Homo sapiens: one gene and its partners. Changing the gene in region 1 together with any one later gene gives a genetic interaction. Each region holds a gene or a part of one and is shown in the gene's direction. Other genes may lie near its edges. The genes, in order: ATR, GINS3, RAD23A, CHEK2, POLA1, POLI and MCM4.

Region 1 (3,500 bases):
GCCGGGCGTGGTGGCACGTGCCTGTAGTCCCAGCTACTCGGGAGGCTGAGGCAGGAGAATCACTTGAAGCTGCGAGGCGGAGGTTGCAGTGAGCCGAGATCACACCACTGCGCTCCAGCCTGGGCGACAGAGCGAGACTCCGTCTCAAAAGAAAAAAAAAAGAAAAAGGGCCGGGTGCGGTGGCTCACGCCTGTAATCTCAGCACTTTGGGAGGCTGAGGCGGGCGGATTACCTGAGGTCAGGAGTTCGAGCCAGCCTGGCCAACATGGTGAAACCCCGTCTCTACTAAAAATACAAAAATTAGCTGGGTGTGGTGGCACACGCCTGTAATCCTAGCTACTTGGGAGGCTGAGGCAGGAGAATTGCTTGAGCCCGGGTGGCGGAGGTTGCAGTGAGCCAAGATCGTGCCACTAACTGCACTTCACCCTGGCCGACAGAGCGAGACTCTGTATCAGAAAAAGAAAAAAATTCACTCTTTTTCTTTTACCACTATTTGAGATAATAAGTGGGGAAAATGTATGAACATTTTACAGTGCTATATAGAAATAAATTGTGACATATATGAAATATATGCTATTATTTATAAGTAACTGTCTTACTACACCCTAAGTTGTTTTGTCAGAAGTGATGGACTTTGCTAATCACTCACACATAACCCACTGTGAATCCTCTAGGTAGAGTTAATCATTCCCTGCTTTGGGTGTACATGATACTTGCTTTTGATTATTTATTTATTTATTTATTTATTTATTTATTTATTTATTTATTGAGACTGAGTCTCGCTCTGTCGCCCAGGCTGGAGTACAGTGGCGCGATCTCGACTCACTGCAATCTCCGCCTCCCAGATTCAAGCGATTCTCCTGCCTCAGCCTCCTGAGCAGCTGGGACTACAGGCGCCCGCCACCACACCCAGCTGATTTTTGTGTTTTCAGCAGAGATGGGGTTTCACCATGTTAGCCGGGATGGTTTAGATCTACTGACCTCATGATCCGCCTGCCTTAGCCTCCCAAAATGCTCGTATTACAGGCGTGAGCCACCATGCCCGGCCGCTTTTGATTATTTAAGTGCATTCCTCTCCTCTCCCCAGCAACTATTCTGAGTTCTTTGAAGCAGAGGATCTTGTTTTACTTGCCTTTTGAATTTATTAAATTATTTGCGTCTGTACCCATCCATTCTTTCTATGTTTATGAAAGAGTTACCCTCCTGTCCAAGGATTGTCTTTTTACTTATATCTGGTTCCAAGAAGAGGAGTCACATCTCAAGAATTGGTTGCTTAGGTCTTTCCATTATAAGGGAGAAACAAAACAAAGCCCTCTTGATCTCATACAGTTCTTTAGTTATCACCAACTCTACTTCTCTTCATTTCATGATCAAGCTTTGGAAAGAACCCGCTATTCTCAGTATTCACATTTCATTAGATTTTCAGCCCCTTGCAATCTGGCTTCTCTCTTTACTGCTACAGGAAAATTTTAAAAGTCCAAAAGGCATACAAATACCTAAACATAAGAACTAAAACTATGAAACTCTTAGAAGTGAACATAGAGGGGGCCGGGCATGGTGGCTCACACCTATAATCCCAGCACTTTGGGAGGCCAAGATGGGTGGATCACCTGAGGTCAGGAGTTCCAGACTAGCCTGACCAACATGGAGAAACCCTGTCTCTACTAAAAATATACAAAATTAGCCAGGCGTGGTGGTACATGCTTGTAATCGCAGCTACTCAGGAGGCTGAGGCAGGAGAATCGCTTGAACCCAGGAGGCGGAGGTTGCGGTGAGCTGAGATCGCGCCATTGCACTCCAGCCTGGGCAACAAGAGTGAAACTCTGTCTCAAAAAGTAAATAAATAAATAAAAATAAGGGAACATAGAGGGAAAACATTATGACACTGGATTTGGCAATGATTTCTTTGATATGACACAAAGCACAGGCAGCAAAATAAACAGATAAATTGGAATTCATCAAAATTAAAAACTTTGTGCATCAAAGGGCAGTATCAATAGAGTGAAAAGGCAACCCATGGAACTGGAGAAAATATTTGCAAATCATATGTCTGATAAGGAGTTTAATATCTAGAATATATTAAGAACTCCTACAGCTTAACAACAAATATAACCTGATGAAAAACAGAAAAAGAACTTGAATAGACATTTCTCCAAAGAAGATATACAAATGGACAAATAAGCACATGAGAAGATGCTCACAATTACTAATCATTAGGGAGATGCAAATCAAAACCACAGGATACTGTTTCACACCCATTATGATAGCTATTAATAAAAAAACAGTTGGGGCTGGGCATGTTGGCTGATGCCTGTAATCCCAGCACTTTGGGAGGCTGAGGCAGGCGGATCACGAGGTCAGGAGATTGAGACCATCCTGGCCAACATGGTAAAACCCCATCTCTACTAAAATACAAAAAATTAGCCAGGCATGGTGGTGCATGCCTGTAGTACCAGCTACTTGAGAGGCTGAGGCAGGAGAATTGCTTGAACCCGGGAGACAGAGGTTGCAGTGAGTTGAGATCATGCCACTGCACTCCAGCCTGGTGACAGAGCAAGACTCTGTCTCAAAAAAAACCAAAAAACAAAAAAAATCCCACAAAAAAAAAACACAGTTGGGCATGGTGACTCATGCCTACAATCCCAGCACTTTGGGAGGTCAAAGCAGGCAGATCGCTTGAGCCCAGGAGATTGAGACCAGCCTGGGCAACGTGGTGAAACCCTGTCTCTACAAAAAATACAAAAAATTAGCTGGGTGTGGTGACATGCACCTGTGGTGCCAGCTACTCAGGAGGCTGAGGTGGGAGGATCTCCTGAGGCTGGGAGGTTGAGGCTGCAGTGAGTTATGGGTGCACCACTGCACAGTAACCTGGGCAACAGGGTTAGACCCTGTCGCCAAAAGGGGAAAATAAAATAATAATAAAAAAACACCCAGAAAATAACGTGTGTTGGTGAAGATGTGGAGAAATTGGAACCCTTGTCCACTGCAGGTGGGAGTGTACAATGGTACAGCCACTGTGGAAAAGGGTATTAGCGTTCCACCAAAAATTTAGTTTTTATGTGCTTCAGAAGGGAGGAAGTGAATGCTAATTGGTCCATAGGCAGTCATGGGTGGGCCTGGAAAAAGCACCCTAAGTTCTCGCTGTGGTCCGTGTAACTGGCAGCCAGGCTTCCAGGCTTCAAGCTGTTCCTGGCTTGAAGGTGGGTCTTCACTGGGGACCCACCCCTTTCCTCCCAGGAGCCTACTTCCTGCTGCCATCAACCTGCCACCCACTACACCGAGGCTGTTCGTGCCGAGGGGCGCCTGCAGGCCCATATTGAGCTGCCCTCAGCCTACCGCTTGGCCTGCCCAAAGTCCAGAGGGAGATGAGGCAGCAGGGGGCTGGTGTGTCAGTGCCGTCCTGAGCACATGCACACGCGGCCTGGTCCTGACAACACCTGGGCTCCCCCACAACTTTGCTCCGAAATTGGTGTGGGTGCCGGGAGCGGGGAGAGGCCAGG
Region 2 (3,500 bases), on another chromosome or scaffold:
AGATATTCTCTATCCTTGCAATTTTTTTTTCTACTTTTTTTTTTATCCTGTAAAACATGTGGACCAGGCATGGTGGCTCCTGCCTGTAACCCTAGCACTTTGGGAGGTGGAGGTGAGAGGATCACTTGAGGCCAGGAGTTTGAGATCAGCCTAAGCAACATAGCAAGACCCTGTCTCTAGGAAAAATTGAAAAATTAGCTGAGTGTGGTGGCACATGCCTATAGTCCCACCTACTCAGGAGACTGAGGCAAGAGGATTACTTGAGCCTAGAAGACCACTGCACTCCAGCCTGGGTGACAGAACAGGACCCCCTCTCTGAAAAAAAAAAAAAAATTGAAAAAATGTTAAAGTCTCTCATTATGATTATGGATTAGCCTGTTTATCCTTTTACTTCTGTTAATTTAGACATATATTAATAATTTTCTGGTAGATATAATGACCCTTTTATTATTGTCACGTCTCCCTTTATCTCTAATGCTCCTGTCTTTTGATTCATGTTTACATGACTTTTTTTAATCCTATTTTTAATTTTTCTGTGTCTTCATATTTAAGGTATGTCTCTTTTATGCAGCATATAGTTGGGTTTTGTTTTGTGTGCAGTGTGCTGATTTTTAATTGTTATATTTAATCCATTTACATTTAATTATTGACATATTTGTATTCATTTTTACCTTCTTACTATTTTCTTATGTCCCATCTGTTTTAGCTTTCTTTTTCTATCCTTTCTTGACTTCCTTTTGCATTAATCAAATTTATTTTATTATTCATTTACCTTTTTATTAGTTTATTTAGTTATATATTCTTCTGTTATTTTAGTGGCTACCTTAAATATATTACACAATCATTTCTGACCAAAAAGAATGTTATATAAGTTACTACTTTCACCACTTCACAGAAATGACTAGAATCTTAGAACACTTAAACCCATTTTTTCTCTTGTGTTATTGTGATGTATTCTAGTTTGACTCATTGAAAACCCCTGTAAAACATTATTATTATATACCCACTTATATATTCTTTTCATGACTTGTTTTTCCTTTCTGCATTTCTGTAGTTCTTTCTGGAATCATTTGCATTCTCTCTTCAGAATTCCCTTATTCTGGATCTTCTGGTGATAAGTCTCAGTTTCTGTCTGTGTCACAGATGCCCAAGACCAACCCAGATTTGATGATTCACTAAGAGGACTCAAAGGACTCAGCATATAGTCACACTCATGGTTAAGATTGATTACATCAAAAGGATATAAAGCAAAATTAGCAGAGGGAAAGGTTGCATGGAGTAAAGTCTGGAGGAGACCAGGCACAAGCTTCCAAGAGTCCTCTCCTAGTGGAGTCACACAGGATGCACTTAAATTCTCCAGTAATTTGAATTCTGATAAAATGTTTGAAATACTGTCTCCTAGGGAAGCTTGTTAAAGACTCAGTCCCCAGGGTTTTATTGGAGGCTGTTCATGTGGCACTTTCTGTCTAGCACAGACCAAAATTCAGACTTCCAGAGGGAAAGCAGGTGTTCAACATGAATCACATTGTTTGCACAGACAGTTCAGGCACACTCTCATCAGTTCTAGGACGGGTGAGAATCCTCCTGAAATCCAAGTTCCCAAATGCCAACCAAGGGCCAACCTTGCAGCAGGCCTTGCTAAGATAGCAGCCTCAGGCCTACTGTGTATCTTTCCTGCATACTTTCTCTATGGAAATGCCTTTATTTCACTTTTACTTTTAAAGGATATTTTCACTGGGTATAAGATTTTACACTCACAGTTATGTTCTTTTAGCACATAAAAAAAAAATTCCATTTCCATTGTTTTGTGGCTTCCACAGTTTCTGTTAAGAAGTTGGCTTTTTTTTTTTTTTTTCTTTTTTGAGACAGAGTCTTGCTCTGTCGCCCAGGCTGGAGTACAATGGTGTGATCTCGGCTCACTGTAACCTCTGCCTCCTGTGTTCAAGCGAGTCTTCTGCCTCAGCCTCCTGAGTAGCTAGGATTACAGGCGCCCACCACTATGCCTGGCTAATTTTTGTATTTTTAGTAGAAACGGGGTTTCACCATGTTGGTCAGGCCCGTCTCGAACCCCTGAGCCCATGTGATTTGCCCGCCTTGGCCTCCCAAATTATTGGTGTGTCTGGAATTGGTTCCTTCAGGTGGGTTCTTGGTCTCGCTGGTCTCGCTGACTTCAAGAATGAAGCCGAAGACCCTTGTGGTGAGTGTTACAGTTCCTAAAGGTGGTGTGTCCGGAGTTTGTTCCTTTAGATGTTCAGATGTGTCCGGAGTTTCTTTCTTCTGGTGGGTTTGTGGTCTCGCTGGCTTCAGGAGTGAAGCTGCAGACCTTTGCAGTGAGTGTTACAGCTCATGAAGGTAGTGGGGATCCAAAGAGTGAGCAGCCATCAAGACTTACTGTGAAGAGCTAAAGAACAAAGCTTCCACAGCGTGGAAGGGGACCCAAGCAGGTTGCTGCTGGTGGCTTGGTGGCCTGCTTTTATTCCCTTATTTGGCCCCACCCACATCTTGCTGATTGGTCCATTTTACAGAGAGCTGATGGTTCATTTTACAGAGTGCTGATTGGTCCGTTTTACAGAGTGCTGATTGGTCTGTTTTTACAGAGTGCTGATTGGTGTGTTTACAAACCTTTAGCTAGATACAGAGCACTGATTGGTGCATTTACAATCCTTTAGCTAGACAGAAAAGTTCTCCAAGTCCCCACCCAACCCAGAAGCCCAGCCGGCTTCACCTTTTATTGGGATTACAGGCGTGAGCCACCGGCCCCTGCCAAAAAGTTGGGTTTAACTCTTAATGTTCATTCTTTAAAGGCAGTGTGTTCGTCACTCCCATCTACAGCTGTTTTTAGGATTTTCTCTGTCTTTGGTCTCGTAATTCAGGTAATATATGCCTAGTTGTGATTTTATTAGTATTTATTCTATTAATACTTGTTATTCATAATGTTCCTTGAATCTGTGGTTTGATACCTTTTTTAATTTTGGATAATATATAGCTATTATCTCTTCAGACATTTATTTTGCCTCAATCTATCGCTCCTGCCCATCAAATTACATGCATGTTGAACTTTGTCTTTCTTTTACACCTTATTTCATACATCTCTTAGGCTCTTCTCTGTTTTTTCTCTAGATACTTTAGTCTGGTTATTTTCTATTGACCTTTTCTCATTCACAGTCCTGTCTTCATCCAAATCCAATCCAGTAAACATGTTAAATTTGATTTAATCTATTGACTTCTTAGGTTCAATTATTGTATTTTTCAGTTCTGGAATTTCCATTTGATTTCTAAGTTTATCTTAAAGTTGGCGCCTAATTTCTCTGCTATTCGGTGTCAAATAGGGGGCTTACTTCCCTCCCTTCTTTCTCAGATCTTAGGCCCTCATGTCCTGGTGGTGTTGGCAGCCTTGAACTCAATATTGGTCTGTCTAGTCCTGTGCAGTTTGCCAAAAGCTCTGCTTCCACACCCACAAAGCTGCTCCCATCTTTTTGCAACAGTTCTCCCTTGTGAGA
Region 3 (2,640 bases), on another chromosome or scaffold:
GCGTCACTGCCCTGATGGGCGGTTGGGAAGGCAAAACCTGCCCTGAAAAGCCTTTGGGTAGTGATTCTAGCCACTAAAGGCTTCCCACAGGAGGCTGGATGTGAGTGATGGGTGGGCCTCTGGAGGGCAGGGCCGAGGCCTCATCTGTGTCCTGCCAGGGCATGGAGGAGGGTGGCAGCAGGAGGTCTGTGCATTAGAACTAAACAGGACCCCTGACAGGGAATTCCTGGGAGCCCCGAGCCGGAACACGGTTCTGTCCAGGAGAGCCAGGTATCGGAGCAGCCGGCCACGGAAGCAGGTGGGTGTGCACATGCCGCATCTGCCCTCCAGGTACCTGACTCACATTACACTCCACCCCGCAGTGCTCCTAGGAGCCCGGCGTGGTGTCTGACTGCACCCCTTCCTACTACCAGCAGGAGAGAACCCCCTGGAGTTCCTGCGGGACCAGCCCCAGTTCCAGAACATGCGGCAGGTGATTCAGCAGAACCCTGCGCTGCTGCCCGCCCTGCTCCAGCAGCTGGGCCAGGAGAACCCTCAGCTTTTACAGGTGTGGTCCCAAGGGCAGAGGGAGCTAGGGCAGCCACCATTTCCCTTCCCTGTGGGCACCAGAGTCCATAACACGTAGGAATCGTTCTAGGTCCGGAAAGCAGGACTAAGCACATGCTTCCCCCACGCCCCTGTGCTTCCTGTGACCTGGTGACCCCCCTGGTTTCTCAGTCTTCCCAACCACCTTGTAAGGTGTGGGTGCTGTCAACATCACCTCCCACAGAAGAAGACACCGGAAACTTAGAGCAGCCTGTCATTCCCAGGGTCACGCAGCTGGTAGTGTGTGTGTCTGCCTCCTGCCTCGGGGTGGGGTCCTGGGCTGGGGCTCTGGCTTCACATACAGATGGTGCTGCGTAAATGTCTGTAAGGTGGCATGACGTCACCCAGGACAGCTGTGCCCCAGTTGGCTCTGGGACAACTCTGCTCAGTGAGGCTCCATCTTGCCCTTGAAGGTTCACAGGAAGAGTGGGGGAGTGGCCCCCTGGGTGCAAGTAGGTTCCTCTGGGTTCTCGGTGAAGTGCCTACCGGTCTTGGCTCAGGACCCTGCTGTCTGACCCTTCTCCTCTCACTTCTCAGTCCCTTGCCAGCTCCTCCTGGTCGGTCGTGTTCTTCATCTGCACTCAGCCCTCCCTCATAGTGTCCTGGGGCCTTCAGTCTGTATGGGAACCCCCAAATCTATGTAGCCAGCCCAGGCCTCTCTGAATGCCACACTCCATGGCTGGCTTAATTAACTCTCCATCAAAGTGCTCCCTAGACTAGACGTCTAAGACTTAGAACAGACCTCCCCAGTCCTCCCCGATCTCTGCAAGGATTAGCTTGGGGTTGCTTCAGCCCCAGGCCCTGGGGATCTGCTGGGGTCTACCCCTTGTCCTGTCTGCTCTTCCCACTCAGCCCCTCCCTGCACTCCAGCTCTCTGGTAGCCTCTTCCTGGGCCTCTGCCACTGCATAGTCCCACAGTCCACTTTTCAACCATGAGGCAGATGACTAAAAAGCACTTTCTTTTCTTTTTTTTTTTGAGAGGAAATCTCGCTCTGTCGCCCAGGCTGGAGTGCAATGGCGCAATCCCGGCTCACTGCAACCTCCGCCTCCCGGGTTCAAGCGATTCTTTTGCCCCCGCCCGAGTAGCTGGGACTACAGGCGCCCGCCACCACGCCTGACTAATTTTTTGTATTTTTAGTAGAGATGGGATTTCACCCTGTTAGCCAGGATGGTCTCAATCTCCTGACCTAATGATCTGCCCGCCTTGGCCTCCCAAAGTGCTGCAATTACAGGCATGAGCCATCACACCTGGCTGACTGAAAAGCACTTTCTTCTTTAATGTGAAAATGATCAGATGCATACAATGGTAGAGTTATATCAGAGCTTCCAGATACCCAGGTAGGGCACAGTGGCTCATGCCTGTAATCCCAGCACTTTGGGAGGCTAAGGCAGGCAGACCACTTGGTCAGGAGTTTTAGACCAGCCTGGCCAACATGGCAAAAACTCGTCTCTACTATAAATACAAAAAGTAGCTGAGCATGGCGGCAGGCCACTGTAGTCCCAGCTACTCAGGAGGTGGAGGCAGGAGAATCGCTTGAACCCAGGAGGCAGAAATTACAGTGAACCGAGATTGCCCCACTGCACTCCAGCCTGGGTGACAGAGTGAGAGTGTCTCAAAAAGAACAGAAACAAAAATGAACAAATGAACTTCCAGATACCTAAATCCAACACCCAGATGAGTTCACTTTTTTTGGTTTGGGGGCTGGTAGGTGGGAATAGAGACAGGGTCTATGTTGCCCAGGCTGGTTTTGAACTCTTGGGCCCAAGCAGTCCCTCCTGCCTTGCCTCCCAAATTGTTGAGGTTACAGGCGTGAGCCACCACACCCGGCCAAGTTCACCTTTCTAAAAGATCCACAGACCACGTCTTTTCCCATGTAACTGTCACCACCGTGGCTTCCCCCTGCTCTAGAAAATGGGTCTGACTTGGGCCTTCCTCTCTGGTGTCATTGTCTGCCTCCTCCCCCTTCCCTTGTTCGCTGTTTTTTGTTTTTTTTGTTGTTGTTGTTTGTTTGTTTTTGAGATGGAGTTTCGCTCTTGTTGCCCAGGCTGGAGTGC
Region 4 (3,500 bases), on another chromosome or scaffold:
TTTTAGCTTGATGAAATCCCAGTTGTCTGTTTTTGCTTTAGTTGCCTGTGCTTTTGAGGTCTTACGTAAAAACCCTGTGCCCAAAAAACCTGTGCCCAAGATGAGTGTCCTGGAGCACTTCCCCAGTGTTTTCTTCTAGTAGTTTTATAGGTTTTGGGACTGGATTTCTGTCTACAGTCCTGGAGTTTTGCTGCCCTCACTTTGGTTTTTCACTCACTTCTCTGCATGGCTTTCCAATAGCAATAGCTCCCAGATAGCAAGCATGGGTGGGTGGGGGGAGTATTACATGCGTCACTTCACTTAATCCTCATGGTCTGTCTACTTATTTTCAGATGAGAAAACAGGTTTAGAGAAGTTGTGATCTACCTAAAGTCATGCACAGTTTCACTCAAGTGTCTGACTCCAGATCCGCTTGCCTCTAATCTCTCATAGTAACTTGTTGACACATTTTCTCCAGTTGTCCTGTCTTGCTTAAAAAGCTGTGGGGAAGACTCAGCCTGGCTCAGGTAGTATTAGACCAGCAGTCCCTGGTGTGGCATACTCAGTTTTGGCATTGCCTTCCTGGTATGTTTTAAAGAAAACTCATCAGAACCTTTGTATCTTTTTTATTTTCCTTGAGACAGGGTCTCGCTCTGTCACCCAGGCTGGAGTGCAGGCTCGATCACGGCTCACTGCAGCCTCAACCTCCTGGACTCAAGTGATCCTCCCACCTCAGCTTCCCAAGTAGCTGGGACTACAGGTGCACACCACCATGCCCTGCTAATTTTTTGTATTTTCTGTAGATACTGGATTTCACCATGGTGCCCAGGCTGGTCTTGAATTCCTGGGCTCAAGCAATCTACCTGCGTTGGCCTCCCAAAGTGCTGGGATTACAGACATGAACCACCACACCTGGCAGAACCTTTGTATCTTGAAAGCTGTGTAAATACAATCAGTGTGGGTATCTTAGTCCCTCCTTATCAGCGGTAGTAGTTTCACTTACCAATGGTCAGCTGCGATCTGAAACTATTAAGTGGAAAATTCATAAGAAATAGTCAATTCATGGCTGGGCATGGTGGCTCAGGCCTGTAATCCTAGCAGTTTGGGAGGCTGAGGTGGACCTGAGGATCACCTGAGGTCTGCAGTTTGAGACCAGGCTGGCCAATACGGTGAAAACCCTGTCTCTACTAAAAAAAATATACAAATTAGCCGGGCATGGTGGTGTGCGCCTGTAATCCCAACTACTTGGAAGGCTGAAGCAGGAGAATTGCTTGAACCCAGGAGGTGGAGGTTGCAATGAGCCAAAATTGTGCCACTGCACTCCAGCCTGGGTGACTGAGACTCCGTTTCAAAAAAAAAAAAAAAAAGAAATAATCAGTTCATAAGTCTTAAATTACATGGTTTTGCAGTGCTTGTGTTCATGTCACCCTTATATTTAATAATGGCCCCAAAGCAAAAGATGCTGGCAATTTGGATATTGTAAAGAGAAGCTGTAAAGTGTTTCCTTTTACTGAAAAGGTGAAAGATCTCAATTTAATATGGAAATAAAAAAATTTGTATGCTGAGGCTGCTAACGTCTATGGTAAGAACTAATCTTCTATTTGTGAAATTGTGAAGAAGGAAAAAGAAAGTTGTGCATAATTTATATAGGGTTCTGTACTATGCGAGGTTTCAGGCATCCACTGGGGGGTCTTGGATCTTATCCCCCTCTGATGGTGGGGACTACTATAGTGTTGTTTCCTATGTTCTCCTAGAGTAGTAGCCTGAGTTTGGGGAGGAAGAGAATGCCCTCCTCTCCCTCCCTTTTTTTTGTTAATCCGATTAGGTCAGCAGTGGATGTTACTTTGATTTTACTGGTGGTTCTGTTATCAGAGTCTTGGTTTGTTTTCTGTTCTTTGGAGATAGGGTCTCACTCTGCCACCCAGGCTGGTATGTAAGTGGTATGATCATAGCTCACTGCAGCCTTCAACTCCTGGGCTCAAGTGATCCTCCCACCTCACCTTCCTGAGTAGCTGAGCCCACAGCTGCATGCCATCATGTCTAATTTTCTTATTTTTTGTACGGGGGGCGGGGGGGGTCCCACTATGTTGGCCAGGCTGGTATTGAACTCGTGGCCTCAAGTGGTCCTCTTGCCTTGGCCTCCCAAAGTGCTGGGATTACAGGTATGAGCCACTGCACCCAGCCTGTTATGACAGTCTAACTGTCTATCAGGTTAATTCTAAGACAAGGGTGGAAGCCTCTGTTACGGTCTCCAGTTTATAAAAGAATGGTTCCTGCAAGATTACATCAAGGCCGGAAGGCCATTTAGGATGCTGAAAAGATAAGCCCTATGGTTATTTAGCATCACAAAGGGATAGGTGGAGTTGTTAAGAGCTGTCTTCCTTTGTGTTCTGCCTCATTAAGTCACTGGGTCCTTAGGTGTCAGGGAATATAGATTGAACGAACAGGTGTGTTTCACTTTAGGAGCAAGCCTGGGGGAAAAGGGGTACCAGTGACATTTTATGTAAATGGACCCTTTGGAGTAATGCAGCAGGTTATTGTACAATTTCTTTTTGACTTTTATATCAAGCCACCTGATTTTTTGTCTTCTTTTGCTTTCCAAAGTACACAGATGCTCCTCAACTTTCAATGGCATTATGTCTAAATAAAACCATTCTAAGTTGAAAATATTGTTAAATTGAAATTACATTTAATACACCTAAGATACCAAACGTCATAGTTTAGCCTAGCCTCCTTTAAACATGCTCAGAACACTTATGTCAGGGTACAGTTGGGCAAAATTATCTAACACAAAGATTATTGTTATTATTTTTTGTAGAGGTGGGGTCTCAAACACCTGCCCTCAAGCAATCCTCCTACCTCCACCACCCGAAATATTGGGTTTACAGTTGTGAGTCACTGCACCTGGCCTATTTTATTTTATTTTAAAATTTTATTTATTTAATTAATTAATTTTTTTGAGACAGGGTTTCACTCCTGTCACCCAGGCTGGAGTGCAGTGGCGCGATCTCAGCTCAGTGCAACCTCTGCCTCCTGGGCTCGAGCAATTCTCCTGCTTCAGCCTCCTGAGTAGCTGGAACTACAGGCGCCTGCCACCACACCCGGCTAATTTTTGTATTTTTAGTGGACACGGGGTTTGACTGTGTTGGCCAGGCTGGTCTTGAACTCCTGATCTCAGGTGATCTACCTGCCTTGACCCCCCAGAGTTCTGGGATTATAGGTGTGAGCCACTGCACCTGGCCACCTGGCCTATTTTATAATAAGGTGTTAAATATCTCATGTAATTACTTGAATACTGTACTGAAGGTGAAAACCAGAATGGTTATGTGAGGACTTGGAGAAGTAAGTGTCTACTGATTGCTTTCACAGAAAGTCTAAACATTGTTAAATAGAAGCATTGTTAAATTGAGGACTGTATATATGAGTTTTTTTTTTTGAAACGGAGTCTTGCACTGTTGCCCAGGCTGGAGTGCAGTGGTGCAATCTTGGTTCACTGCAACCTCTGCCTCCCGGGCTCAAGC
Region 5 (3,500 bases), on another chromosome or scaffold:
AATATTTGCCATTTGTCACCATTTGTTCAAGTTAAGTGAGGCAACCAGATCATAAAAGGTTGCTAAAAGGATTTCAGTAAAACAGGAATAAAGCATTTTTTTTGTTTTTGAGATGGAGTCTCTCTCTGTTGCCCAGGCCGGAGTGCAATGGCACGATCTTGGTTCACTGCAGCTTCCACCTCCCAGGTTCAAGCGATTCTCCTGCTTCAGCTTCCCGAGTAGCTGGGATTACAGGCGCCCACCACCACGCCTGGCTAATTTTTGTATTTTTAGTAGAGACGGGCTTTCACCATGTTGGTCAGGCTGGTCTTGAACTCTTGACTTCAAATGGTCCACCCGCCTCGGCCTCCCAAAGTGCTGGGATTACAGGCGTGAACCACCACACTGAGCCCAGGACTAAAACATTTTTAATGTAGGTACTTGTATAAAGGAGTTCCATGGGGCATTTCAGATGTTGGCACAATGTGGCTGATTTCCCTTTAACACTGTGATGTTAATTGTATGGCTCTAAGAGTTCATGCTGAGCAGTAGTAATGTTGTTTTTAAAGATTGAGTCGAAATGACTTTTTACTCAAAATGATTTTTAAAAATAGTTTTCTGGTATCTCCTTGATAATATAGTGAATCACTTAAGTAAGAGACAAAGTCTGTCTTCAACCAACAAAAATAATAACGCCAGTTCCCCTCCCACCCCCAAAAAAGAAAGTTGGTCAGTATAGTAATATTAATTGGACTATTTTGCATCTCTTTTGTTAAAAGCTTAATTTGGTAAGGCAGGTTGTTTCTGTTACTAGATGGTTAAAGACCAAATCAGTATTTGCCAGTGATTCCTGTAGAGTAGGCTAAAAAGGAGGTGAAAACTCAAATCCCGTAATTATTATAAGCCTTATAGGTGTGGCAGAAATCCAGTCAGCTCTGGCCACTGGATTCCAAAAGCTCTGTCCAAGTTTTTTCCTAGGGTATTAACTCTTCAGATGGAGTTGTTTCTCCCGTACTCCATTTGAGAAAGGTAGAACTCTTTTTTTTTTTTTTTTTTGAGGTGGAGTTTTGCTCTTGTTGCTCAGGCTGGAGTGCGATGGCATGATCTTGGCTCACTGCAACCTCAGCTTCCCAGGTTCAAGCGATTGTCCTGCTTCAGCCTCCCAAGTAGCTGGGATTACAGGTGTCTGCCACCACGCCTGGCTAATTTTTATAATTTTAGTAGAGACGGGGTTTCACCATGTCGGTCAGGCTGGCCTGGAACTCCTGACTTCAGGTGATCCACCTGCCTTGGCCTCCCAAAGTGCTGGGATTACAGGCGTGAGCCACCACACCCGGCTGAGGTAGAACTCTTGAGAGAATGGGAGAATTTTTTTTTTTTTTAATCTCGCTCTCTCTCCCAGGCTGGAGTGCAGTGGTGTGTTCTTGGCTCACTGCAACCTCCACCTCCCAGGTTCAAGCGATTCTCCTGCTTCAGCCTCCTGAGTAGCTGGGATTACAGGCGCCCCCCACCATGCCCAGCTAATTTTTGTATTTTTAGTAGAGATGGGGTTTCACCACGTTGGCCAGGCTGGTCTTGAACTCCTCACCTCAAGTAATCTGCTCACCTTGGCCTCCCAAAGTGCTGGGATTACAGGCGTGAGCCACTGCACCTGGCCGAGAATCAGGTACTTTTTTTTTTTTTGAGATGGAGACTCGGTCTCTTACCCAGGCTGGAGTGCAGTGCATGATCTCGGCTCACTGCATCACTGCAACCTCCACCTCCCGGGTTCAAGTGATTCTCCTGCCTCAGCCTCCTGAGTAGCTGGGACTGCAGGCATATGCCACCACGCCTGGCTAATTTTTGTATTTTTAGTAGAGATGGGGTTTCACTATGTTGGCCAGGCTGGCCTCAAACTCCTGACCTCAGGTGATCCACCCACCTGGGCCTCCCAAAGTGCTGGGATTACAGGCGTGAGCCACTGTGCCCAGCATTTGTTAATTTTTAATAAGTATCTATGAGATTTTGCAAACCAGCCCACCAGAGTCTCATCTGGAAAGTCACTGGCCTTTCCCCATGGGCAGCTGCAGCAGTGGTGTGTATCTTTCATTTGTTGCTTTAGCTGTGCAGAGGTTGTCTGCTTTACTCATACCAGTAGCTCATAGTGTTCTGACCCTCTTGCAGTCAGGCAGCCAATATGATTGGAGGACCTGCCACTCTCTGGACTTGCCTTTCAAATAGCTCAGCGTTTAAGTCCTTGTGTGGTTTCAAGACCTGAGGATGGTGGAGTTTCAGTGGTAATACAAACAGGGTCACTCAAAAACTATTTCTGGTTTGCCTGTAGAATATGCAATATGTTTGTTTTGCTAATTTTTGGAAGGGGATGGATGAGGGAGATTTTCCTTCTGAATTGTATTTGGTTGATTGAACAGGCATGAAAATTATCGTCTATTTGCAGAGCGTACATCAGCTAGTGGAGAGGGAAGTGGCATGCCTTACAGGTTTGCTAAGTGTAGGAGAAACCAGTCTAGAAATTACAAGTGAATAATTCCCCAAAGCAGCTAATGAAGAATTGGCTATAATTCAGTTTGTTTTTTATGAAATAGATGAGTAATTGATGGTATGACAAGTGTATTATGCTAATGGAATCATTTAATATCTTATGTTAACACCCACCTAAAAGGAATACTAAGTTAATTGATGTCTATTTAAGGAAAACCCTGTAGTGGTGTTGAATGTCAGAACTCATGATTTGGTTGCAGCTACTCCTTCAGTCTGCCATTCCAGTTTCAATTTGACAATTTTTTCATCAGAATTATTTAACACTTTGACTCCTCTATTTGAAGCTTTTTTCCTGAAACTTGTATAATGGTAGGTCGAGGACTTCACAGGTGTTTATGAAGAAGTTGATGAAGAACAGTATTCGAAGCTGGTTCAGGCACGCCAGGATGATGACTGGATTGTGGATGATGGTAGGTGGGGCGGAGGTGGGGGCGGGGATGTTGCTTCCTAGGCACTGTGTTAGTTGCTTCTTGTAGATTCTCACTCATGTGGTGGAGTTGCTGCTTTGCCTGGGCAAATGTAAGGCACTGTTAGGATCTTACCTTTGGTTTGGATTTTCCTTTAATTATTTGAGGATGAGGAAGCAGAATAGCAGGACATTTATTTGGGGATATTTTGGAGAATCTAGGCACATACCTCAGGATGTAGTATAAATCCTCCAGGTAATGGCTGTGTAAGAATTGGGAGGAGCCCCTTGTCTGTGGGGCCAATGCACAGCGCTTGGAATTAAGGAATGCAGGTTCGGGATCCATCATTCCTACTTTCCAATTCTATGACCTTGGACAAGTCACTTAATCTCTCTGCGCCTTAGAGTCTTCATCTGTAATATGGGGATGAGAAAACTACCTTCTCCCAGAGTTGTGAGGTGTATATGAGGTTCTAGGTATGAAAATTAACTTGGTCAGTAGAAAGCACCATACAAAGGCTGGTCCTAATGTCCTGTGCCCCTTCTGAAAGCTCATTGGTTCTCACTTGTAGGG
Region 6 (3,500 bases), on another chromosome or scaffold:
TACATGATGATACTTATTTTAATTAAGTACTGGTTATCACATTATTTGAGATAAAGATTTCTAGTTTTAGTACCATGTTCTTACTATTCTAGTTTGCTTAGTATGTGATCCCTTTCCTATTAGAAGGCTGATTTATTATTAATAGATTGGATTAATAAGTATTCTTAAATGGAATCTTAAGCATTGATATTTTGATATCTTAAGTTAGCTACTATGATTGAAGACAGTGCAACTTAATTTTAATAGCCTATAATGCATATATGAGGCAAAATATTTTAATCTGTTAAAAATCTTGTTTTCAGAGTAGTCCAGTGATTTAGCAAATGGGAAAGGTATAATCACCCAGTTAACATTGACTGATTTTTTTGCTATGGGACAAGCACTTTACTGAGTGCTTTAAATATGTTAGTCCATTTAATCTTCACAACAAAGCATCAAGGTAGGTAGTACTGTTGTTTGTCCATTCCTTCTTACTTCTCTTCTTTCCTTCCTTCCTTCCATTCTCTCTCTCTCAAGATGAGGATACCGTACTTTAGAAAGGTTAAATAACTTGTCCAAGGATAAACTTAGATTCAAGTCCTAGGTGATTAAGAACTCTTGCCATAATCATACAATAAAGCTTGGAGTTGGTACTAGAGCTTTAGAGTTTTCATAACTTTGAATTATTTTATATTAACTGTTTTATATTAACTGTTAATACAGTAATATTTTATATTAACTTTCTAGTGAGTACAATAGCTTGCAGATAAAAAACTGTTAATATAAAAGTGAACTAAATGGCTCAAACTAAGGACAAGAGGTAAGTTAGTGAAGAATGTATTGAATATTTATTTGACTGTACACTGATAATAATTAGATATAGTTATTTGAGTTTGTGCTAATCCTTATTTATGCTTCTTTGATAGTCCTTTAGTGAAGAAGATTCATTTAAAAAATGTTCATCTGAAGTTGAAGCTAAAAATAAGATTGAAGAACTACTTGCTAGTCTTTTAAACAGGTGATTTTCAATCCATTTTGCCAAGTCATCCTATGTATTCATTCTATATACGGTATGTGGAAAGAATATTTGATGTTCCATCTTGGAACTGACAGATTATCTGGAGACTAAACAATGTAAAAATAATTTATCATGGGATTTCTCTGCTTTATAAACTGTTGTAAAGATGGTAATAGGGGGTCTTACCTAAATTGAATTCATTGGTCTTAATTCTGTTAACACTGTGGTTATGCTATGGATCTAAAGCTGCAGATAGTTACCTAAAGGGGTTTTATGGATATTTCTAACATTTCTAGACTTATTCTGGTCTTCAGGTGAGAAGAAGAAGTTTTAATTTTTCCCTGTGGCAATTGCAAAGCCTCTGCCCTCAACCTAATAGTTAGTTGCATTTCATTAAGTTAGTACCATGCTAAATACAAATACATGCGAAATACAAAACCCGTGAAATTAACCATTTATCTGTGCCTCTGCTAATAGTTACTTGCATTTCATTAAGAAGAAAAAAATGCAAAGAGGAATAATACTGTCATAATTCTAAAACTCCTGATACAGGAACAACTATATAAATTTGTGATTGTTGAGGATAGGAAATTATTAAAGTAACAGTGATGGAAGAAGCAGAAGAACCCTTGTATCTCTTTTGCCTCAGACTGTAAAATAAAATGGAGTCGAAGGAAAGAATGGCTAGCTGGCGCTGTGTGTGAGTAGGGTGAGTGACTGCAGGTGTGTGCAGGGTTTCTGATCTGTATGTAAAGAGTATCAACTGGGGTTATAAATATATGAGTAGTACAAGATAAACTGAAAAGGAAATTTAATTTTGTGGTGCTCCTTGTCATTATACATGTATTTCTCAATATTCCATATTCCACAGATGAGTATTATCTGTTTTCGTCCCATTTCTTTGTTTCTCCTCTTCTTGTTAGAAATTTCTCAAATTGTGGTTTCAGGGCTCTAACAGTTTAGAGTAGGTGTGCTTCTCTAATGATTCTAGGAGGACTAACTGTATTTAGAGAAAATGGTTTTTGGTTGGTTCTAAGTCTGAGAAAACTGAAGAAGTGAAATTTCCTCCAACTTTGCTGTCGTGTGCAATGTGGCACTCAAATGTCTTGAGCAGAGCCATGCAGCTCATTGTTGGCTGCATGCAGCTGGGGCTGGCTGTATGACTGGCCTCCCGTGATATGACTCAGGCTGGGCCTGCGAGTATGCTAGTGAAACTGGGTCATTTGCTTCAGCTAAATAGAAGACTACCCTGAAATGCCTAACCTTTGGAGACAGTTCTTCACATAGAAAAACCACAAGAAGTATAAGTTTTACAGGTTCTCTTATTTGAAGAGTCAACCCAGAAGTGAGACCAGGTGCTCTAAACCTGTGACATACAAAACCTGTGAAATTAACCATTTGTCTGTATCTCTGCTTCCCGGCTCCTTTTCTCCCACACCACGGGCCCTTATTTCAGTGACTGAATTATAACACCATCTAAGTGACTTGCAAAAAAAAAAATTACAGGAGTGTGTGTGTGTGTGTGTGTGTGTGTGTGTGTGTATTTGTGTATAATTAGTTTTGTTTTCTCTAGAGTATGTTATGATTAATACTATAGGTATGTAAGAAATGTAAAACCGTATTATTTTTAATCCATCCTCTAGGCACTAGTTTAAGATTGCTTACGATACAGCCTTTTTCTAATGTGTCTTAATTAGCATATCATACTCTTTGAATTGCATAATTAATATAACACGTTTAACTGGAAGATATTTAAACTAGTAACCATTTAAGGTATTTTATCCTAGTTAAGCAGCCATCGAGAAGTTTTGTCACAAAGCAGTAAGAGATAGAAAAAATTATTTACTACAGAACTATTTAATTTTTTATGTTTTTGCGATAGGGTCTTGCTCTGTCACCCAGGCTGGATGGCAGTAGTGCAGTTAGGGCTCACTGCAGCCTCAGCCTCCTGGGCTCAAGCAATCCTCCCACCTCAACCGCCAGAATAGCTGGGAAGGCACCTGCCATCAAGCCTAGCTAATTTTTAAATTTTTGTAGATGAGGTCTTGCTATGTTGCCCAGGCTGGTCTTGAACTCCTGGGCTCAAGTGATCCTCCCACCTCAACTTCCCAAAGTGTTGGGATTACAGGTACGAGGCACCGTGCCTGGCCCAGAACTATTTTTTTCAGATCAGAATCTTCAAGTTGAGTGTGTTTAACAATGTGCAATACTTGCATTTTATGTTTGAGATTTGGTTTTATATGCATTGCCATGTGTATAAAAAGGGAAATGTTATCCTTTAATGACATTTTTTCCAGTACTACTTAAGTGAATTTGTCATATCACTAAAACCTTTGTTTCAACACCAAAACCAAGACATTTGCATGAAACTCTTCTAAAAAATGCATGTACTCATATTGTATATTAATTATATACTAAATATAGTATATGCTCTTTTAAGATATTGCTCTAATAAGCTATCATATAATGGTAATAGTGATTACTCTTTAACAAAAGTAATGTC
Region 7 (3,500 bases), on another chromosome or scaffold:
ATCTCGTTGACAAGGTCCAGCCTGGGGACAGAGTGAATGTTACAGGTAAGAGTGTAGGTTTGCACCAGCACTTGAGCATGTCTGGCTTGCTTTCAATGCTGTGCTTTAGTGAGTCATTGGACTTGGTCACAGGTCCAGTTCTACCTCCAGTTGTCACTGCTTGTCTTTGAGACTGTGGGGTATATCCCTGCTTTATCTGCCACCTTTTTAACTGAGTACCATGGCCCAGCAGTATGAAATTGTTCAGTTCTTCCCAAACTTGAATGTTGGAGCTCATGGTTCGTGTGGTCACTCGCCTCTTGATACCTCAGTATCCTGGAGCTGTGTGTGTCTCAAGTCAGTACTGTTGGCATCATGAGAGAGCAGCCTCAGACAGGCTTGTATGGGTAAAGTTTTGAGTTATGCCATCAGCTCAGAGAAGTATTACTCACCAATGCTGGAGTTTTAAGTAATTTTTACTTAATTTCCCAAATGTATAGCCAAGGGTTAACATTTGTTTGTTACAGAGAAAAATGAGTCAGTGACTTGTTTCCATGTGTAGAAGCTGAGGTTCAGGGATGCATAGACAGCAGTAGCTCAGATGCCACGGTAAATCAGAACCCAGGACCCAGGTCTCCTTCTCTTGCTGCCACAAGAGTGCTCTTTGCACAGCACCATATGAGTGTGGCAGTCCTCCTTTTGATGCTGTAGAGTCACAATGGATTTTGGTTGGGGGCAAGGGAGTGTTGATGGCAGCACGGTTCTTCATTGATGGGCAAGGTGGCGACGGTCGCGGAGTGCCTGAATCTGCTCCTGAGCGGAGGGCCTGGGGCACACCACGCATCGGCTCTTGTCTTCAGTGAGGCAGTGCTCACCCTGTTTCTTCCCCAGTGTGAAGTCCCGCAGTTATCACTGGCAATCTTCCGTCGTAAAAGTACTTGAAGTCATGGAGAATTTGAAAGAATGCGTAGTTTTTAGTGAGTGACGTGCGCATTTCCAGTCCTGCTACCCTGAAACCTTTGATAAAGTATTTAGTCCAATATTTTTGTTTCCTCACCTACAAAGTGGAGTTAATGTGATGATACATGTGTGAGAGTGTTTGGGGCCAAGGGGCTGTGGAAAGTGCTGTGTAGATGTGAAATAAGTATCAATGCTGCTCTGTGAGATAAATCATTCCGGGCCACTTTAAACATAATCTTCCATCCCTAGCCTATATTGGAGTGAAGAATAGTGTGTATTCTAAGAATGTGTGTAAACTGGTTTGTTGTGTTAAACAAGAATTACACTGACCCACTGAATAAACAAGGACAGTGCTCTGTGCCATTGCGTTGAGATAGCTGTAACGGGGAAAGGCCAGGCTTTCTCCAAAAGCTGCAGGAATCAGCCTGGAGTTAAAGCCTTCTGGTTTGAAATCCAGAAAAGACGAACATCAGATCAGACCTCTGTATGTGAGGAGCCTGGCTTCCAGAAGAATGCATGATTTGCATGCTTTTGTCGGGGGTGGTGGGTAGGTTGGGGGGACCTAGTCTAGTTTTAATGACTGGAGGATTTTAGCATTTTGTTGCAGTCAAGTAAGTGCTAGGCAGATTCTGTACACTCAACTTAGGGAAGTAAAAATACTGCTTATTAAAAACAACCACGAACCCAGCATTGAGCTAGAAGCACAGCAGCTCCATTTCACCCTCAGGGTGACTGTGCCCGTGGGCATGCTCACGTAGCTACAGTTGCCCTGGAGCACTGCTGACTAGTGGGCCCAGGTGAACACGTCCTCGGGTCTATCATTTGCAGAAACCTGGGTTCTTTCTCTTTTGTTTTGTTTTGTTTTGTTTTGTTTCATTTTGTTTTGTTTTGTTTTTGAGACGGAGTTTTGCTCTCGTCACCCAGGCTGGAGTCCAATGGCACCATCTTGGCTCACCGCAACCTCCGCCTCCCAGGTTCAAGCCATTCTCCTGCCTCAGCCTCCCGAGTAGCTGGGATTACAGGCATGTGCCACCACGCCCGGCTAATTTTTGTATTTTTAGTAGAGACAGGGTTCTCCTTGTTGATTAGGGTGGTCTCGAACTCCCAACCTCAGGTGATCCGCCTGCCTCAGCCTCCCAAAGTGCTAGGATTACAGACATGAGCCACCTTGGTTCTTTCGAGCTTGTCCGTTTCCTGCTGCTATTTCCCTGCTTGCTCATAGCAAGCGGGAGCTTTGCAATGTGGGCCTGAGTCCTGGGCTTGGGAGGGTCATTTAAGAGACGGTGGAGCTCACCCTTTCCAGGGCCAGCCCGACGTGGTGCCTCGCTCTGAAGTGCACCTGTTGCCTACGCTGGTTGCTGAGCCACTCGGAGGAAGATATGGGAAGGTAAAAGTGCATCTCCTGGTTGTGCCCTCAGGCATCTATCGAGCTGTGCCTATTCGAGTCAATCCAAGAGTGAGTAATGTGAAGTCTGTCTACAAAACCCACATTGATGTCATTCATTATCGGAAAACGGATGCAAAACGTCTGCATGGCCTTGATGAAGAAGCAGAACAGAAACTTTTTTCAGAGAAACGTGTGGAATTGCTTAAGGAACTTTCCAGGAAACCAGACATTTATGAGAGGCTTGCTTCAGCCTTGGCTCCAAGCATTTATGAACATGAAGATATAAAGAAGGTAACAGTGGATTTTAAACTAGGGGTTGGGATTTACAATTCTTTGGGATCAAATAGTATAAACATCCACTCCGCCACTCGAGCCATCCGCCATAAAGGACAGAGTTGTGGCCTGTTAGAGCAAGTGCTGGCAACCTGACTTGCCATTGGTTGAGAAGAATCATAGCATTGTCTATCCTCATCTCTGGTCTAAACTTAGGTTTCTAAACAGAAGAGGCCACACAGTGTCAGAATAGGGACTTGCATGGCCACCATTCTGGTGTAATGATAGGTGCTGATGAACTGGTCAGTGATAACTTAAAGCATATCAAGCACTTTCACGAGCCTTTTTATACCTTCCTGTGATTTCTTAATTGTAGTTCTTTATAAGAGAGAAAAGTACCTCTAAAGTTTAAACTACATCTCAGTTAACTGTGCAGAAAATGAATGTTTAGACATGTCTCTGATTATTTAGGGAATTTTGCTTCAGCTCTTTGGCGGGACAAGGAAGGATTTTAGTCACACTGGAAGGGGCAAATTTCGGGCTGAGATCAACATCTTGCTGTGTGGCGACCCTGGTACCAGCAAGTCCCAGCTGCTGCAGTACGTGTACAACCTCGTCCCCAGGGGCCAGTACACGTCTGGGAAGGGCTCCAGTGCAGTTGGCCTCACTGCGTACGTAATGAAAGACCCTGAGACAAGGCAGCTGGTCCTGCAGACAGGTGCTCTTGTCCTGAGTGACAACGGCATCTGCTGTATCGATGAGTTCGACAAGATGAATGAAAGTACAAGATCGGTATTGCATGAAGTCATGGAACAGCAGACTCTGTCCATTGCAAAGGTGAGTCGCCTTCTCCACCGTGAACATGGACGTGTTTAAAATATGTGGACCCTTGAAAGACAGG

Evidence for each region.
Region 2: changes in ATR (region 1) and GINS3 are lethal when combined (synthetic lethality), as found in Homo sapiens cells (one large-scale study listed by BioGRID).
Region 3: changes in ATR (region 1) and RAD23A are lethal when combined (synthetic lethality), as found in Homo sapiens cells (one large-scale study listed by BioGRID).
Region 4: changes in ATR (region 1) and CHEK2 are lethal when combined (synthetic lethality), as found in Homo sapiens cells (one large-scale study listed by BioGRID).
Region 5: changes in ATR (region 1) and POLA1 are lethal when combined (synthetic lethality), as found in Homo sapiens cells (one large-scale study listed by BioGRID).
Region 6: changes in ATR (region 1) and POLI are lethal when combined (synthetic lethality), as found in Homo sapiens cells (one large-scale study listed by BioGRID).
Region 7: changes in ATR (region 1) and MCM4 are lethal when combined (synthetic lethality), as found in Homo sapiens cells (one large-scale study listed by BioGRID).

What each region holds. Positions count from the first base shown.
Region 1 is NC_000003.12:142,568,734-142,572,233, reverse strand, and holds part of ATR (serine/threonine-protein kinase ATR), read left to right. Parts: intron 1-3,500. UniProt on the Homo sapiens protein: Serine/threonine protein kinase which activates checkpoint signaling upon genotoxic stresses such as ionizing radiation (IR), ultraviolet light (UV), or DNA replication stalling, thereby acting as a DNA damage sensor.
Region 2 is NC_000016.10:58,398,971-58,402,470, forward strand, and holds part of GINS3 (DNA replication complex GINS protein PSF3), read left to right. Parts: intron 1-3,500. UniProt on the Homo sapiens protein: Required for correct functioning of the GINS complex, a complex that plays an essential role in the initiation of DNA replication, and progression of DNA replication forks.
Region 3 is NC_000019.10:12,948,862-12,951,501, forward strand, and holds part of RAD23A (UV excision repair protein RAD23 homolog A), read left to right. Parts: intron 1-219; coding exon 220-298; intron 299-413; coding exon 414-547; intron 548-2,640. UniProt on the Homo sapiens protein: Multiubiquitin chain receptor involved in modulation of proteasomal degradation. Binds to 'Lys-48'-linked polyubiquitin chains in a length-dependent manner and with a lower affinity to 'Lys-63'-linked polyubiquitin chains.
Region 4 is NC_000022.11:28,735,321-28,738,820, reverse strand, and holds part of CHEK2 (serine/threonine-protein kinase Chk2), read left to right. Parts: exon of another isoform or gene 1-1,537; coding exon of another isoform or gene 1,538-1,561; intron 1,562-3,500. UniProt on the Homo sapiens protein: Serine/threonine-protein kinase which is required for checkpoint-mediated cell cycle arrest, activation of DNA repair and apoptosis in response to the presence of DNA double-strand breaks.
Region 5 is NC_000023.11:24,700,418-24,703,917, forward strand, and holds part of POLA1 (DNA polymerase alpha catalytic subunit), read left to right. Parts: intron 1-2,833; coding exon 2,834-2,930; intron 2,931-2,963; exon of another isoform or gene 2,964-3,500. UniProt on the Homo sapiens protein: Catalytic subunit of the DNA polymerase alpha complex (also known as the alpha DNA polymerase-primase complex) which plays an essential role in the initiation of DNA synthesis.
Region 6 is NC_000018.10:54,283,017-54,286,516, forward strand, and holds part of POLI (DNA polymerase iota isoform a (long)), read left to right. Parts: intron 1-726; exon of another isoform or gene 727-799; intron 800-905; coding exon 906-997; intron 998-3,500. UniProt on the Homo sapiens protein: Error-prone DNA polymerase specifically involved in DNA repair. Plays an important role in translesion synthesis, where the normal high-fidelity DNA polymerases cannot proceed and DNA synthesis stalls. Favors Hoogsteen base-pairing in the active site.
Region 7 is NC_000008.11:47,967,441-47,970,940, forward strand, and holds part of MCM4 (DNA replication licensing factor MCM4), read left to right. Parts: coding exon 1-45; intron 46-2,357; coding exon 2,358-2,617; intron 2,618-3,070; coding exon 3,071-3,436; intron 3,437-3,500. UniProt on the Homo sapiens protein: Acts as a component of the MCM2-7 complex (MCM complex) which is the replicative helicase essential for 'once per cell cycle' DNA replication initiation and elongation in eukaryotic cells.